Regions from separate parts of the Homo sapiens genome. Here region 1 is linked to region 2. Evidence: fine-mapped expression QTL. A gene starts in region 2. The other region holds a variant in brackets. All regions are shown on one strand. Distances are between the middles of the regions.

The links. PIP is the estimated chance that this variant, and not a neighbour inherited with it, causes the effect.
Region 1: its variant is fine-mapped to the expression of RASAL2 in tibial nerve (GTEx, PIP 0.96).

Annotation. Positions count from the first base shown.
Region 1 is chr1:177,965,153-177,973,488 of GRCh38, reverse strand. It overlaps CRYZL2P-SEC16B (CRYZL2P-SEC16B readthrough), which reads left to right. Exons shown (of 32, transcript NM_001356506.2): 8 at 5,450-5,806; 9 at 7,484-7,596; 10 at 8,322-8,336. The coding sequence starts at 5,508. It overlaps SEC16B (SEC16 homolog B, endoplasmic reticulum export factor), which reads left to right and starts at 3,431. Exons shown (of 26, transcript NM_033127.4): 1 at 3,431-3,605; 2 at 5,450-5,806; 3 at 7,484-7,596; 4 at 8,322-8,336. The coding sequence starts at 5,508. The variant C/T (reference allele first, on the strand shown) is at 4,187.
Region 2 is chr1:178,090,200-178,098,535 of GRCh38, reverse strand. RASAL2 (RAS protein activator like 2) reads right to left here and starts at 4,432. Exons shown (of 18, transcript NM_170692.4): 1 at 3,842-4,432. The coding sequence starts at 4,043. It overlaps RASAL2-AS1 (RASAL2 antisense RNA 1), which reads left to right and starts at 4,543. Exons shown (of 2, transcript NR_027982.1): 1 at 4,543-4,975; 2 at 5,124-7,028. RefSeq lists silencers at 3,994-4,053, 4,204-4,363, 4,434-4,733, 4,784-4,833 and an enhancer at 4,455-4,956.

The DNA of each region.
Region 1 (8,336 bases), 130 kb after region 2:
ATAATGTCAGTTAATTTTGCCTTTTAAAATAATATACATTTATTGTAGAAAAGTTAGAAAATATGGATAAGCAAGAGGAAGAAAATAAAATCATCCACCATTCCATTACCTGGTGGATAACTACTGATAACACGTTGATGTAGATCTTCTCAACTTGTTTTCTAAATTTTTACTTTCAGTAAAGGATTAGGATGAAGCCTGAGGGATGTCTTAAATGCTGAGCTGCCCTTTGCAAGAGTAACCAGTCATTAAATCACAGTGCTCAAGGATTCCTGGCAAACCTGACCTAGATCTAGGTGGGTGTTCACATCCATCAGCACTAATCCGGTGGCTAAACATTAGCAGCATCATTAACAGTGATAATACTTTTGCTAGACAGGTGTCAAACTAGGGTAGTGTCTTAGTCAGTTTGGGTTACTGTAACAGAAAACCATAGACTAGGGCTTAAACAACAGAAATTTATTTCTCACCCTTCTGGAGGCTGGGAAGTCCAAGATCAAGATTCCAGCAGATCTGGTGTCTGGTGAGGGCCACTTCCTGGTTTGCAGATGGCCATCTTTTGGTTGTATTCTTACACACCAGAGAGCAGAGAGAGAGAGGAGAAGCAAACCCTCTTGTGTCTTTTTATAAGGGAACTAATTCCATTGACAAGGCTCCACTCTCATGCCCTAATTACTTCTTGGAGGCCTACCTCCTAATACCATCACATTGGGAGTTAGGTTTTCAACATATGAATTTTGGGAGGAAACAGACATTCAGTTCACAGCAGGCAGTTACTCTTGTTTGAAGCTAGACCCTAGACAGTGCTGTCCGGCATTTGGAAAGGAGGATGGAGACTGGGAAAGGAAATTCACATAAATTAGTAAACTTCTAGGACTCCAATCCTGGTGCATAGTTGGGATGCAGGGCAGGAATCAAGTATGAGGACAGAGCACTTGGGGCAGGATGATGTGAAGACTGTAGCCATTTGGGCATGAGGGAGCCTACTGGATTATCCAAGAACACTGCAGCCAGGACTTGGGGTGGCAAGACTCATTCTGGTCCACCTCCTGGTGGGGATTGAGCTCCTAATGTATTGTCAAACTGGGTCAATTTGGTTTAGAAATCAGGAAGAATTGAGCTGCCAGGTCGAAAGACTTAGTAATTGTAGTTATGTGGGGCTGGGAAGGTAGGAAATGATAAATCCTAAACCCTTTGGAGTGGTGAGATCCCATCACAATCTAGTTAATTTTGTGACCCATATAACTGTTGTATGCCATATGTCTATATAGAATAATTAAAGCTAATTAGAATTAATTTTGGTTGGTGAGTGTTTGAAGAGTTTCATAATAACTCTAGAGATAATTAGAGATACTTTGGGATGTCACAAAATAAGCATTTAGAATAATTTGACTAGATGTTTAAGCCAGGGTTGTGCAATGAAGGCTAGTAACAGAATGACAATTCTATAATTGCAAGAATGCTGAATCAGGAAGTAAGAGTTTGGGGTTCAAATCAGTATGCTGCTAAACAGGTTCTCTGAAATAAACCAGCAACCCACCAACAACCTTGCTTTGTAGCAGTTGCCAATTTCTGTGGTGTAAATACTCCCACCATGGTGGATTTCAAGTTTTCCATGGTTTAACAACCGGCTCACACAATTCCTGAATATTTAATAATCAGCTCTTACTAAACTTGCACTGGTGTGCAAGGCAGCTAGAGCACACCAGTGTAATTTTCACTGAACTTCTAGGTAACTTTGTGATCTTGGGTAAATCATTTCACTTGTTTGGATCTTGGTTTTATCATCAAAAAAGCATAGTTGCTAAAATAACCTCTAAGGTCCTTTTCAAAGTTAACATTCCCATAATGCAGCTGGTGTTACAGGGCAAGACTAATGTCACATTATATGCCAAAAGAGTGACATCAAGAACTTTTGTGAATGTTGTTGTGATATATCAGAACATATAATTTGATATCACGTCAGTGTAATCATCACCCACATTCTGATTCCTGCTGTTAATGTGCATGTTCTTCTCTAGTTCCTCTTCCCAGAAGGATTAAAAACAACAGTGCAGCCATTAGAGAGCCAAACTTCACAGCCCAAGAGTGAGGTAAGAAACCATTAGTGGCTAGGCATGGTGGCTTACGCCTGTAATCCCAGCACTTTGGGAGGCTCAGGCAGGTGGATCACAAGGTCAGGAGTTTGAGACCAGCCTGGCCAACATGATGAAACCCCTTCTTTACTAAAAATACAAAAATTAGCCAGGGGTGGTGGCACGCACCTGTAATCCCAGCTACTCGGGAGGCTGAGGCAGGAGAATTGCTTGAACCTGGGAGGTAGAGGTTGCAGTGAGCTGAGATTGTACCATTAAACTCCATCTCTGGGCGACAGAGAAAGACTCTGTCTTGGAAAAAAAAAAAAAGAAACCATTAGCTACAGTCAGAGAATTCTATGCTCAGTTGCTGGGTTCTAGAGTCAGCTGAGGGGCTGAGAGAAAATCTTGTAGCTTAGGTACATGACCCTATATGACCATGAGACCCAAGAGGGGTGGTTTTCCCTGGACTAGTAAGGACAGACATGAGAGACTAATTTGTGTCTTTTATATTTATGTGTGTCAAATCCTGGCCCTTAATAGGAACACAGTAAGCATTTGTTGAGAGAAAGAATAAACCATTTGGGATTTTTTAAAAGAGCAAATTCAGAATTTTAAAATATTAATTCAGAAGTAGTCATGTGCTTTTCTGCGTTTACCTTAATAATGCAGAAGAAATGTATATTTCAAGTGCGAGAAACTACTTTCTTGTTATAATGGAAAACTTTTTAGTGCCTTCAGTTCAGTACTGGGGATATAAATCTGCCTTCCAGCTAGATGACAGAATTTATTACATAACCAGAACCCAATGGTGAGAAATATACATAAGAAAAACCCACACTGGGCAAACCAGGTGTTTGCTCCCACCAGTGAGCGTGTCCCCTTCCCCATGTGCCTCAACCAGTGGAATTAACTTGTCTCTTTGGGAAGGAAAAGATAATATTGATCTGCAGGGCATACTTACCTATATATCATGTGCTGCTTTACCAACATTTCAGCCCCGTAATGACCCTCATAAGCTAAGCATTGCCATTCCCATTTTAAAGAAAAAGAAACTGAAACTCGGAGAGGTTAAGTAACAGAACCAGCTAGTGGTAGAGCCCCGAGTTAACACCCCAAAGGTGGTGCTTTTCTCGCCAGACCAGGCTGCCTTGGGGCTTCTGGACTTCCTCTTCCTGATGTCTCTCTTCCGTGATTGCTGTGGGAATTTGGATGATTTCTCATGTGAGTGAACCTGGCTCAGCCCATGCTCAGGCAAACAGAAGCGCCAGTCTCTGACAGGGTTCTGAGCAAATTCGTCAAGTCAGGCGGGTCCTGGGCTGCGGTATCTGGGCTGTACTTTGCCCTAATGAATCAGCTCCATGGAGGTTGGGCAGTTGCAAAGGTAACTGACATGATGTAGATCTGAGGGCCTGGGGAGTCTTGGTAGATGTGGCACCTGGACTTTGACAGTCTCCAAGAGGAGAGGAGGCACTCTTGGGCCAGGTCCCTGGAGCAGCGCTGAAGGAAGGTGGGAAGCCATCAGAGCAGGTGTGTGGGAACACTCGCTCCCTTCTTTCCCCTCTTTGAGCTGGACGTGCTGTGCCGTCAGATTAGGAAAGGCAAGATTGCCTTTACTGGGGCTAGGAAAGGTCATCTACATGAATGTGTGAGTCTGATTTGTCATCATAGATGTAATTCCTTCATTTTGAGAATCGAAGGTGTTATTTATTTGGTGTCCTTAATCTGAGGACTGATTTGCTGGAGTTGATGTCTCTTGGCAGCAAAATGATGTGATTTCAGTGGAAAGATTGGGTGTTGCACCTTTGCAGTTGGGAAAGGGCTGCCTAATGAGACTATCTGGGGACAAGGAGAAAGCAGGTTTCTTCTCATTCTGCTTACTTGGTCCAAATGGTTTTGAGTTCCACCAGCCTTCAGAAAAGGCTCATGTGCCCTTCCCTGTGTCTGGGACATTTGGCCTTTCCTGGGATTTGCTGGCAAAGGCTGTCATTGCACCTGGCTTTTTCAAGGGAGTGAGATGATATGGGAAGGAAGCCAGAGGTTCCCCTGAGTTGTGAGTGACCTTGAGGTGGGAGGCCCCCTCCGCACCTTGTTCTTCTTGTGTGTTCTGC[C/T]GTCTCATAGCTCTTGGCTCATAGCTGTCGACCTCGGCTCCCTGGTGTTTGAGCAGAGTGACGTCTCAATTTCAACACCCACTCTTTTGACCTTTTGTTCTGATATGAATTTTTATATGAGGCTGGGACCTTCAGTAGTGGAAACAAGTTAACTGATTTGATCAGAATCTTGCAACCTAAAACAGTTCCTAAGGAAGAAAAAAATCGAGGCCGACCTAGCCTGTGGATGCTCCTGACACAAGGAATCCCTGAGCAAGAGTAAGATCTGAGGCGTGCTTTCCTTTTGTGGGTGCAACCCCTGTCCCCCGCTACCCCGTGCAATGGGCAGAGGAACCTGGAAGGTAATCAGTCCTTGGAGCAATTTCCCTTTTTCAGGATTACGTGGGGGAAAATTAGTTTGATGCTAGGGAGACTTTCAGCATTTAAAATCTCCAACCGGGAAGAATCCTGAGATATGGCCTTCTATTTTCTTATGAAAACAATCCCAAATTTGCCTCTTGTTGGCTCCTCTGGAGGAGGAGCAGGTATGACCATATTATATAGGTTCTAGTTCTTTGAGGGGGTTAATGTAAGGATTCAGAAAAGGTGCTTCTTGAAAAGGTCAGTCTAAATTTCTTTTTGTTTAATAAACATCTTCAGCCACTCATACTACCCTAATCTTTATCCTTGATAACACTGCTATTTATTGAGCATTTTAACATGTTAGGTAACATGTTACGCACTTCGCATAGGTTATCTTTAACTCTGTCAATAACCTTGCAAGGTAGTCCTTACAGTCTCCATTTCATGGGTAAGGAAATTGAGGCTTGAAAAAATGAACTAGCTAGTTAAGTGGCAGAGTTAGGATTTGAACTCTGATCTAGCTCTCTGCAAGACCCACTCTGTTTATGATACCACAGGGCCTCCGCTGTAAGTGTTAAATAAACACTTGCTGGGGGAATATGTGAAGAAACATCAACTGGGATTCCTTGATAGCATTTTTAGCTGTACCTATTATTGTTATCTGTCTCCCTTGCCTCCCTCATCTGTCGTTGTTCCACATGTACTTTTTAATTTTTTAAGCAATATTAATATAATTGTCTAGTCTGTTATTTGCTTCATGTATCTGAGATTGTTTCTCAGATTTCTCTGTATCCGTGACCATATGGTTTGTTTTAGATATATTTCGAGGACCATAGCTGCTCTTTTCACAAAACCTAATCAACCACTATGTTTGGATATAGGCTTCAAGTGATGATTTTTTCCTTTTTCTTTTGTCTGCAGGAAGATAAAATAACTGCACAACTTACTCAAAACCCAGGACAAATTCAGAGAGTCAAGGATGGAACTTTGGGCTCCCCAGAGGCTGCCCCAGACACGAGGGAAGGCCACAGCACCCTCAAAGGATCCAGACCGAGGGTTTCGGAGAGATGGACATCATCGGCCTGTCCCTCACTCTTGGCACAATGGAGAGAGGTTTCACCAATGGCAAGACAACCGTGGGAGCCCCCAGCCACAGCAGGAGCCCAGGGCAGACCATCAGCAGCAGCCCCATTATGCATCCAGGCCAGGGGACTGGCATCAGCCTGTGTCTGGAGTTGACTATTACGAAGGTGGTTATCGCAATCAGTTGTATTCAAGGTATGGCTTTAGGGCTTGGAATGAATGCAACTCTCCTAAATGCGTATGAATAGGTTGTTCTTTTCCTTCTTCCTTTTCCTTTTATTTTTCTCCCCCTTTTTTCTTTTTCCTTCTCTACCTTACTACGTGGCTTTAGCTAAATCCTGTCCTCTCCCAAATTTGTTTTTGATGACTGAAGATAGTATTTCTCTCCTGTTTTTCCCCTAGTGGAGCTTCTTAAAGAAGCCATCACAAATGCCACTGGGTATGGGGGCTTGGGGAGGCAGTGTCAAGGGTAGAAAAAGTGGTGAAATTCAAGACAGCAGATGGAACCCTCTTGCTCTGGGATTGCAAAAGTTCATTTATGTAGACTATGGAAAAGCTTTTCTTGGAGATCCCTATAAGGAGTTCCTCGTTGTCATTGGACCACTCTACCTTGGGATTAGCATGACACTACCAGCACCAAGAAGAGTCCTAGTGCCTACGACAGTACCCGGAATGGAACAGGCATACCAATAATCTGTATTGAATGAATGGGAACTTAAAAAAAATTGACCTCAGGGAAAGCAGATAGAAACCTGCAGGCTCCAAGTTCGGAAGGAAGAGGTTGCAGTGAGGTCATTCTATCCAGGTTGGAGAATCTGGAATTCCTGCTTCCCTGGTCTGTAAGCACTGGACTTAATATTTCATGGAATGTTGGAAGCCGTCTATGTTCTACTTCAGCTTTTCCAGTTGGGGTGATATTTACCTGCTTACAGATTCAGGGTTGAAATTATGACAATTATTATAAAGAAATTTATCCCTAAGAAATACTAAAGAATTGCTAATTGGGCCAGGCTCCTGGATCACGCCTGTAATCCCAGCACTTTGGGAGGCCAAGGCAGGCAGATCATCTGAGGTTGGGAGTTCGAGACCAGCCTGGTCAACATGGTGAAACCCCGCCTCTACTAAAAATACAAAACAAAACAAAAAAATTAGCTGGGCGCGGTGGTGCATGCCTGTAATCCCAGCTACCTGGGTAGAGACGGGAGAATCACTTAAACCCGGGAGATGGAGGTTGCAGTGAGCCAAGATCACGCCACTGCACTCCAGCCTGGGTGACAGAGTGAGGCTCTGTCTCAAAAAAAAAAATTATTAATTGATAAAAACATTAATATTATGATGTTCCTCTCCCCAGTCTTTTTGGATTGTTGAATTCTCAAAGAGAGGCGTGTTCAGGACAGAGGCAATAAAAGTAATCAGACTTAACATAGTCCAGTTTGACTTTTAAATCTCAACTCCATCTGGGATAAGCATGGAAATTACGGTGGTGTATTGGAGACTTAACACAGTCATCTCAGGAAGTGGTTTTCTCAGATAATATCAGGATGGAGTTTTCTAAGATAATATGTATGTGTTTGGGGAGTGAGAGTTTTACTACAAAATAAAAGAGTTTTAAATAAAAAAGAGGTTTTTAGAAAAAGAGTTTTAAGTAAAAAAAATTGTACTATAAAAATTCTACTCCTGTTGTGCAACAAAGGCCTGACTCCTGCTTTGATTCTGTTTACAGGATCTAGAATTAACTGTGGCTTTCAAGCAGATTCTAGGCTGGGGTCACAACTCTGTCCTCTGAACCTGTTTAGTTTGTCAAGTTCTTCATTGGTTTCTCTCTTTACTACCCTTGTCCTCAACTGACCAGTCTTCTTTGTGATATTTTAGGCCAGGTTATGAGAATTCATATCAGAGCTATCAGTCTCCCACAATGAGGGAGGAATATGCTTATGGAAGTTATTACTATCATGGACACCCACAGTGGCTGCAGGAAGAAAGAGGTATGGAAAAGTCTCCAAGAAGCCTCTGGGATTTGGGGATGGGGCAGCTGGTCTGAGAGGCAGGGGAGAGACCAAAGGAGCCATGTTCAGACCCTCACCTTGGGCATCCTTTCTTGGCCAGACGAGACCATAGCAGAAACACTCCTCCTAGATGTCCTGAGAAGAGATATAAAGGAGTTGTTTTCCTTTGTATGCATAGATGATGGTACTGTTACTAGCACTATGGGTAGTTTGTACTTCATCCATGTTTTTTCTCCTACTTTGCCTTATAGCCCAGATTATATAGTCTTTGACCAAGTAACAGTGAAGTCAGTTCTTAAGGACATCTGCTGGGCTATAGTAAGAGTGTATCACTTCACCCTGAGGACAGCAGATATGCACCCAAATGAGTGTTCTACCGTATGCTAATAGGTATAGGGTGTGTCTTAATGGCAGCATCTGAACTGCTAGGAAAGATAAATCTGTTTCAACATTGAACACACACACACACACCAATCCCCATCGTTGTGCGGTTGTATAGATCCATGCTAACTAGTTCAGAGGGGACTGAGAGGCGTCCTATGGACTTTCTTTATTAGCTCTCACCTATCTATTTTTTCAATTTGGAAAATATGTTTTTAGATCTACTGTGCTCCAGGAGCTCCTCACAGCTCACTAATATCTTTCTAAGAACTTTCAGAAACAGGAAGTGACCTGTCTTGATTTTGTTTTCTCTGAGGGTGCAGTGCCAAGGCAACGGA
Region 2 (8,336 bases):
CTCCCCATCCATTCATGGTAAAGTATTTAATTTTAATGTTCTCATTGTTTACCAGAAAGCACAGACAGTGAGGCTGGCTTTGCCACTCCCGTTTCCTTTCGCTATGCTGCTGAGCTTTTTCAGCCAATTGACTTTGCTTTGAGGCTATAAATATCTGAAAAATGTTCTGCATTTGATGCTCTTGGATTCTGTATCCATATTTAGCTGTTTGTGGCATGCCTTTGTTTAAGCTACTCTACCACCCATACAGTCAGTCAGGTTGAGATCTGGATGGTCAAAGGACAAACGGATCAACATACAACAGACACTGACTTACTATGAGCAAGGTACCAATCTGGCAGACAAGTTGACAATGAAGGGGGTGGCAAGATAAGAATACAAAGATAAACAAGGCTCCCTGATATCAAAAATTTTATAGTCTTGACAAGGCATGGGCACAACTTATAATACTGGAATAAAACAAATGAAACATTTTACAACTACAAGGAAATGAAGATTAGGACAGACAGCACAAATATTTTTCTCTCAGCCACATCTCAAAAATGTGCATTAGTTTGTGTTCTAAATATAGAGCCACCTATTATAAAGCTCTGAACATATTCCAGAAAAGTTTTCCAAATCATGGCAATACACAAAACCCTGAGTATACGTATTATGACAATATATACATATGTACACAATATATATGTATTATCAACCAAGGAGCCAAACCTGTCAACAAGAAACTCAAAACAGTGCCTAGTCTTCAAATTTTGTGAGGCAAACTAATAAAATATTGTTTCTAGAAGTTCCTGTTAAGATATTCTTTGGGGGGTTACTTCTGTTGTTGTTTGTTCCCATCATGATTTCAAACAGAAGTATATTGCAGGAGATGCAAATTGCACTTAATAAAGTTCCTTATTATTATCCTACCTTTAGAACCCACATGGCTATGTAGGTTAGGTCTCAAAACTGGATGAACTAGACCTAAGCAACATCGCCATACTCATCTTCCTATCTTGTGAAAACATTCCAAATAAATAAACATCTGCCTTCAATATATCTTCTTTGAAAACTCAGTTCACTGACCTTTTGATAAAACTGCTCCCCAGAATTCCCTGACAATCATGATTTAAATGCATTAAGTTAAGGGCTTGGTTAATGCCTGGCCCCAAGAGCCAGGATAAAGATTATAGGCCAACCTGCAGGTAAAATAATGGGCCAAGCCACAGAATCAGACAACTTTAAAGCTAAAAGGGACCACAGATACCAATTACTCCAGATTCCACTTTTATGCTGAAACCTAGAGGCCATGAGTTAAAACTACCTGCCCAGAATTAGACAACCAACTTGTGGCAAAGCCAGAATGAAACCAATACTCTAAGCTTCTAGTTGTATCCTCTAGACTAGGTTCCCAATTTGTAGATTTCCCTGAAACATGTTAGACTACACTCATCAAAGTCTCTTTAAATTGTGAGAAGAACCTAGGTGATCCAAGACAACGAAGGTTTTGAACACACAGACAAGAAACAAGAAAAACAAAAATTCTGTATTCTCCAAATTGTTTTTCTACATTCTATTACTTTTATTTCAAAGTTTTTACTTCAAAGTTTTCAAACATACACCCTGTTCATACAATAGGCAACTTAAAACTAGCTAAGGACATAGCCAAGAGTCATTCCAATAGTTCTGAAATATTTACATAAACTAAAGACAACAAAATAGTATCCAGGATGAGCTGCCTCAGAGGAAGGAAAGTAGCAATACTAAACAATAAATAAAAACAACTTCTGGTTAATTGATAGAGAAAACAAAAAAAGTTACAATGCAGTGGTAAGTCTGCAATTGGTCACAAAAATGCAAGGCATGGTATGTATATGTGTGTGTCACACACATATACATACCATGCATTTCTGTGATGTCTGATATGAAGTCTTGACATCAATTGAACCACGCAGAAAGAAAACTTCTAAGTCGTGGTCACTCTTGAACAATAAACATATATCCTGTTCAGAAGGACGAAAGAAAAAAAACATAATGTAAACTTGCTCTCACTCTCTCTCTCTCTTACACACACACACACACACACACAAAATATACAATATATATTTCACAAATCAACCCCTAGGAATGGACTACAAAACAACATACATTTGTAGACTTTTATGTCCTTACAAATGAAGAACGATAGTTAACACTAGGTCCAGAGAACCCAGATTGTTTTGGATACTGAAATACCGAATTATCATATACATGTATTCTTAGAATAGCATGGCCCTATTTCTAACATCACACAAATAAACAGTATGCCAAAGAAGTGTGTAAGGAGAGAAAGATGATAGAATGGGAAAACGTTGTAACTACAATATACTCTAATTCATATGCACTTTCAGATTCTCACCAACCTTTGTTCTAAATGACCAGCTAAGTGGGATTTAGCAGGCAGACGGAAAATCAGGCACCAAAGTTTTTAATCTAATTTGCTGAGAACAAACTGGGTGACCTTGCATCGTCTCCCACTCCTTTGCTTTAAATCTTCCGGTACGTAGAGTAACATCAAGAAACAGCCAGCAAAATACAAAGTGGTACACAAATCCTTAAGAACTGGTTATAAGAAGAATTCCTGGATTTTTATGATTAAAAGGGTCACTAGTGATGATTTAATCCAATCCACTCACTTTACAGATGAGGAATCACAAGCCAAAAATGTGACTCGATCTGCCCCAAATCCCATAGCCATTTAGTGGTAGAACTGAGACAAGAACTGAGATCTCTGGACTCCTAGTTCTATGATCTTTGCGATGGACATTAAGTCTTCAAATCAACTGAACTACACAGAAAAAAACCTAAGTCTTGGTCACTCTTGAATAGTAAGCATATACCCTGTTCAGAAAGATGAAAGAAAAAAACATAAGGTACTTGATCACTACAGGCTTAGATGCACAAGACTGCAGGATAACATCTTAACATTGTGTTTGATCCCAGGTGCTTCAAATTTGCCATCTTATACTCAGCCACGTTACTAATGTCTTCTGCAGTCACGTGAGCTAGGCGATAAACATCTTGCCGTTTCAATATTTTGGAAAGCCACAGCTCAGTCCTGAATGCCAGGCTATAAATCCTTAAGCTATGAGTTTTCAAAACCAGCATGGTTTTAGTGCTGCCACAAGGCTCACCCTAATAGAATCTCATCATTCAGTTTTAATTAAAGAGGTGGTTACCAGGAATGCAGAAAGGGAAAGTTTTAGTGTGTTCATCACTTTTAACCTGCTGAGTGGCAACCCAGTCACTTTACAACGAGATTCAGAAACAATAGTGTAATCTGAAACAATCCACACCCGTTGGAATAAGTGGTTGCTTTTAGAGAGAGTGAGGTTCAGGCAGAGGTTATAGATTAGTCTTGCTCCCACCAAATACATAGTTTGCATTTTTTTCATTCATTAGCTTATCCTCTGCTTTTTCATAATATCTTGGTTTCCAGTCTTGCCTCATTCAACAATAAAAAGAGACGAAAATCCATTCACTTGGTTTCATGGAGTTTTTCCATCATACCTTCTTGAAGATTGATTGCCTGGCTGTTCCCTTGAAGTAATCGCCTAAGAATTACGTCTTGGATAGCCCAACTCCCGCATTAAACTTACTGCAGGTGTCTGAAGAGGTCCAAAGACCATACTGAGTGACATCCCTGCCCAAGTGATAGTCTGAAGAAACTTGTCAGAAATGCACCCCCAGAACAAAAAGGGATGTGGGAAACTGACCTAGCACGGATGAGGACTGGGAATGAGCCTGTGACTTAGGGAATGAATTTCAGCCCAAGCAAAAATAGGAAACACCAGCCTCTAAGACGGCCTGTGGTCCTTACCGTACACCCGGACCCAGCTCTGTTGCTGGCACACGGACTCCAGAAGGATCCGATCCAACATGCCACCGGCGACGGCTCCACTGACTGGGACAACCGCGTCCAGGTCCTCCGGGGGCAGCGGCGAGTCGGACTCCAGCGCCGGGAACATCTCCGGCCAGGACAGCGCCTCCGCGGCTCCTCCGGACGACGGAGAGAGCTCCATGGTGCCCCGAGGCGGGAGGGGGACGAGGCGGCGGCTTCGGGGCGGGCTGGCGCGCGGCTCCGCGCCCTGCCTGCGGTAAGGGGAGGAGGAGAGCGCGCAGCGAGGGCAGGGACCCGAGCGGCAGCCGGCGCGGACACCTCTCACCTCCTTCCCCGTCGCCCACTGCCCGAGGCTCGGGCGATGCAGCCCACCTGCAGTCGGCGGGCGGGACCCAGGCCGGGAGGAGGATCCAGCGTGGCCCCGACCAAGGGTGGGTCCGGGCTCAGGTGTGTGTGGGTCCCTCCCGGGAGAGGACGCAGAAGAACCCGGGAGGGGAGGCTCGCCCTCCCACCTCCTCGGAGCCGCCTTCTTCAGCCCCGCCGGCGTCTCTCGCGGTCAGACCAGGCTCTGGCTGGGGATGGAGCGGGGCCGGGCAGGGCTGGGCTTGGGGGCGTCGCCGCCAGGGGCCGCCCCCTCTGACCGGCTCCCGCCGCCGCCGCCTCAGAAGCTCCGAGTGCCCGTTCCCTCAGCCTGAGGAGGGGTAGGGGGCGGTGGCCCCGGGTTCTAGCCCGCCTGTCCTCGGCCCCCACTTCTGGAATGAGCCTGCCCGCCCCCTGACTCTCAGGCCACAGCTCCGGCCACAGCTCTGGCTCCTGCTCCGCGGCGGATCCCACAAACCCGGCAGCCACGGCGGTGGCGGTGGCGGTGGCGGTGGCGGTGGCGGCGGCGGCGGCGGCGGCAGCGGCAGGCGGCATCCCAGGGTGATAGGCTGAAGCAATCGAGGGCCGAGAGCCCGGCCGCGTGTGCACTCGAGTAACGAAGCCGGGGAGGGACTGCGCCGCAGGCAGGAAAAGTCGGACACCGAATTATTCATCCGGCCTGTCCCGCCTACTTTCCAAGTACCCTCCCAGGGATAGCCGGGTATTGAGCGGTCCGGGTCTCTGCTGCTCAAAGTAAAGACCGTTTGAGAAGGCGGGGAGGTAAAAGGGTGCGGGAAATTTAAACAGAAAAGAAAGGAGCTTCCCTTCCTTCTCACACCTTTCCTATTTATTTGTTTCTTTCTTTCTTTATGGGCCAACGTTTCTTTCTTATTGGACAAAGAGATCGAAGAAGCTGCTTTATCTTACAGTCACCCAAGGGGGAGCGCCTTCTTCCTTCCCAGAGTGGAGTGGCAGTGGGTCCGGGATTCTGGGATATGCACAGGGTCTGCGCCCTGCGCCCTGTCCGCGCTGAAGCTGAACTTGTCATTGGTTTGCAACAGCATGGTGAAGAAGTGTGGTGTGGATGGACGGACGGGCCTCTCAGGCACATGAAATACTCAAAGCCCAGTATTAACCAAACATGTTTCTCTGTTTTGTCTTTGATCTTTGTGCAGTGTGTTGGCTTTTTTCCTTTAATGATGTCACTTGTATTTTATTTTTGGTTTATTTGTAGACTGTCTCCCTCCTTGGCCATGGCTTTACTTTTATGTCCACCCAAGGAGAGTTTCACCAGTTTAGGTTTAAGAAATTACTGACAAGTTAACAATAATAATTTCAAAATTGAACAGTAATAACTTAAACCGTGCCTTGGACATAGTAGATCTCCAACAGTTTTTCTTGAATGTGGCTACCTAATGTGGAACAAGATTTTTCATAATTACATGTTGCTATTTTTAATACCTTTTGGGAGGTTCTTTAGTCCCCCCCGCCCTTTCTCCCTACGTTGCACAAAGAGACTGGTCTACAAGGGGTCCTGTTAGTTTTCTGGTTTTGTGGGGTCCTGGAATATTGTTTGGGCTTATTGAGAGTTAACAAGGATGTATTTTGTGAGTTTCTCCAAAGTCTTATTTAGAGTAATAGTATTTCAAAGCAAGAAGTGTTTTAGAGAGAACATCATTCTGCCTCTTGTTTAACAGGTGAGGAAACTGAGGAAAAACCAGCTTACCTGGCTAATCAACCACAAGTACAGATAGTTCCACAATGACTCAATGGATATTACTTCAACTTTGTTCCCTCAAGAAACTTTTGTGATTAAGCTTGTTGATTTGTGGCTTGATGGTTTACAGGAATGGTCATTTTTAATATCTAGGACCCTGCTTGCTTGCTTGCTTGCTTGCTTACTAGACTGGCTGCATAGTCAGTCTTCCACGTGTAAACAACAGTGTGTGCTTTAGTGGATAAGAGATGTTGAGTGCTGAGATTTCAAGGCTCAGCACTGAGTAGACCTAGAGCATTTTTATTTATACTAAATTAATGCCATGGTAACATAAGTTAGACAGCAAGTGAATATGGCATCAAATGTACAAAGTTGAGTATCTCTTTACTAGTCAATGTATAAGGAATTTATTTACCCAAGCAATTATCTTAAAAACAGCATTACAAGTGGTATGCGAAACATTTCCAGAATTTATTTCCACATCTGCTCTTTCAGTGGCATCATCCATTCCTGAGCTCAAGAAAAGGCCTCTGCCAACCGCCAGTAATCCTGCTTTTTTAGTAATCCTACTATTTTTTTTTTAACTTTAAGTTCTGGGATACATGTGCAGAACATGCAGGTTTGTTACATAGGTATACATGTGCCTATGTATACCTATGTAACATGGTGGTTACAGTAAACATGGTGGTTTACTGCATCTATCAACCCGTCATCTAGGTTTTAAGCCCTGCATTCATTAGATATTTGTCCTAATGCTCTCCCTCCCCTTTCCCCCACGCCCCGACAGGCCCCAGTATGTGATATTACCCTCCCTGTGTCCATGTGTTCTCATCGTTCAACTCCCACTTATAAGTGAGAATATGCAGAGTTTGGTTTTCTGTTGTGTTACTTTGCTTAGAATGATGGCTCCCAGCTTCATCCATGTCCCTGCAAATGACATGAACTCATTCTTTTTTATGGCTGCATAGTATTCCATGGTGTATATGTGCCACATTGTCTTTATCCAGTCTATCATCGATGGCATTTGGGTTGGTTCCAAGTCTTTGCTATTGTAAATAGCACTGCAATAAACATACATGTGCATGTGTCTTTATAGTAGAATGATTTATAATCCTTTGGGTATATACCCAGTAATGGGATTGCTGGGTCAAATGGTATTTTGGTTCTAGATCCTTGAGGAATCGCCACAGTGTCTTCCACAATGGTTGAACTAATTTACACTCCCACCAACAGTGTAAAAGCATTCCTATTTCTCCATAGCCTTGGCAGAATCTGTTGTTTCCTGACTTTTTAATAATCACCATTCTCACTGGCGTGAGGTGGTATCTCACTGTGGTTTTGATTTGCATTTCTCTAATGACCAATGATGATGAACTTTTTTTCATATGTTTATTGGCTGCATAAATGTCTTCTTTTGAGAAGTGTCTGTTCATATCCTTTGCCCACTTTTTGATGGGGTTGTTTGTTTTTTTCTTGTAAATTTGTCTAAGTTCCTTGTAGATTCTGGACATTAGACCTTTGTCGGATGGGTAGATTGCAAAACTTTCTCCCATTCTGTAGGTTGCCTGTTCACTCTGATGATAGTTTCTTTTGCTGTGCAGAAGCTCTTTAGTTGGATTAGATCCCATTTGTCAATTTTGGCTTTTGTTGCAATTGCTTTTGGTGTTTTAGTCATGAAGTCTTTGCCCATGCCTATGTCCTGAATGGTATTGCCTAGATTTTCTTCTAGGGTTTTTATGGTTTGGGGTTTTACATTTAAGTCTTTAATCCATTTTCAATAATCCTACTTTTTAAATCCAAACGTTCCAGATACTGGTCCCTGCTTCACCTCCCTATCCTGACCCCAGACTAGCAGCAGGTCATTATCTAATTGCCTAAGTAATAGTATGTCTGAAATTTATCTAGTGTTCATAACTTAAAAATAAAATACTTTCACAGGCCAGGCATGGTGGCTTACACCTATAATCATAGTGCTTTTAGAGGCTGAGGCAGGAGGACCACTTGAGCCCCAGGAGTTTGTGACCAGCCTGGACAACATAGTGAGACCCTCATCTCTACAAAAAAATAGAAAAAAATTAACTGGGCCTGGTTGCAAACACCTGTAGTCCCAGCTACTCAGGAGGCTGAGGCAGGAGAATCACTTGAGTCCAGGAGTTTGAGACTGCAGTGAACCATAATTGCACCACTACATTCCAGCCTGGGCAACAGCATGAGACCCTGTCTCAAAAAAAAGAAAAGAAAGAAAGAAAATACTTTCACAACCTGAACAATAATTCTGTGAGATAAGTAGAACCAGTATTTTAAAATCATCATTTAGAGAATTTAAAAAAAAAATTAAGCATAGAATTGTATTAAGCAACCTACCTAAACATGGCTACTTAGGAGATTGAGATTAAA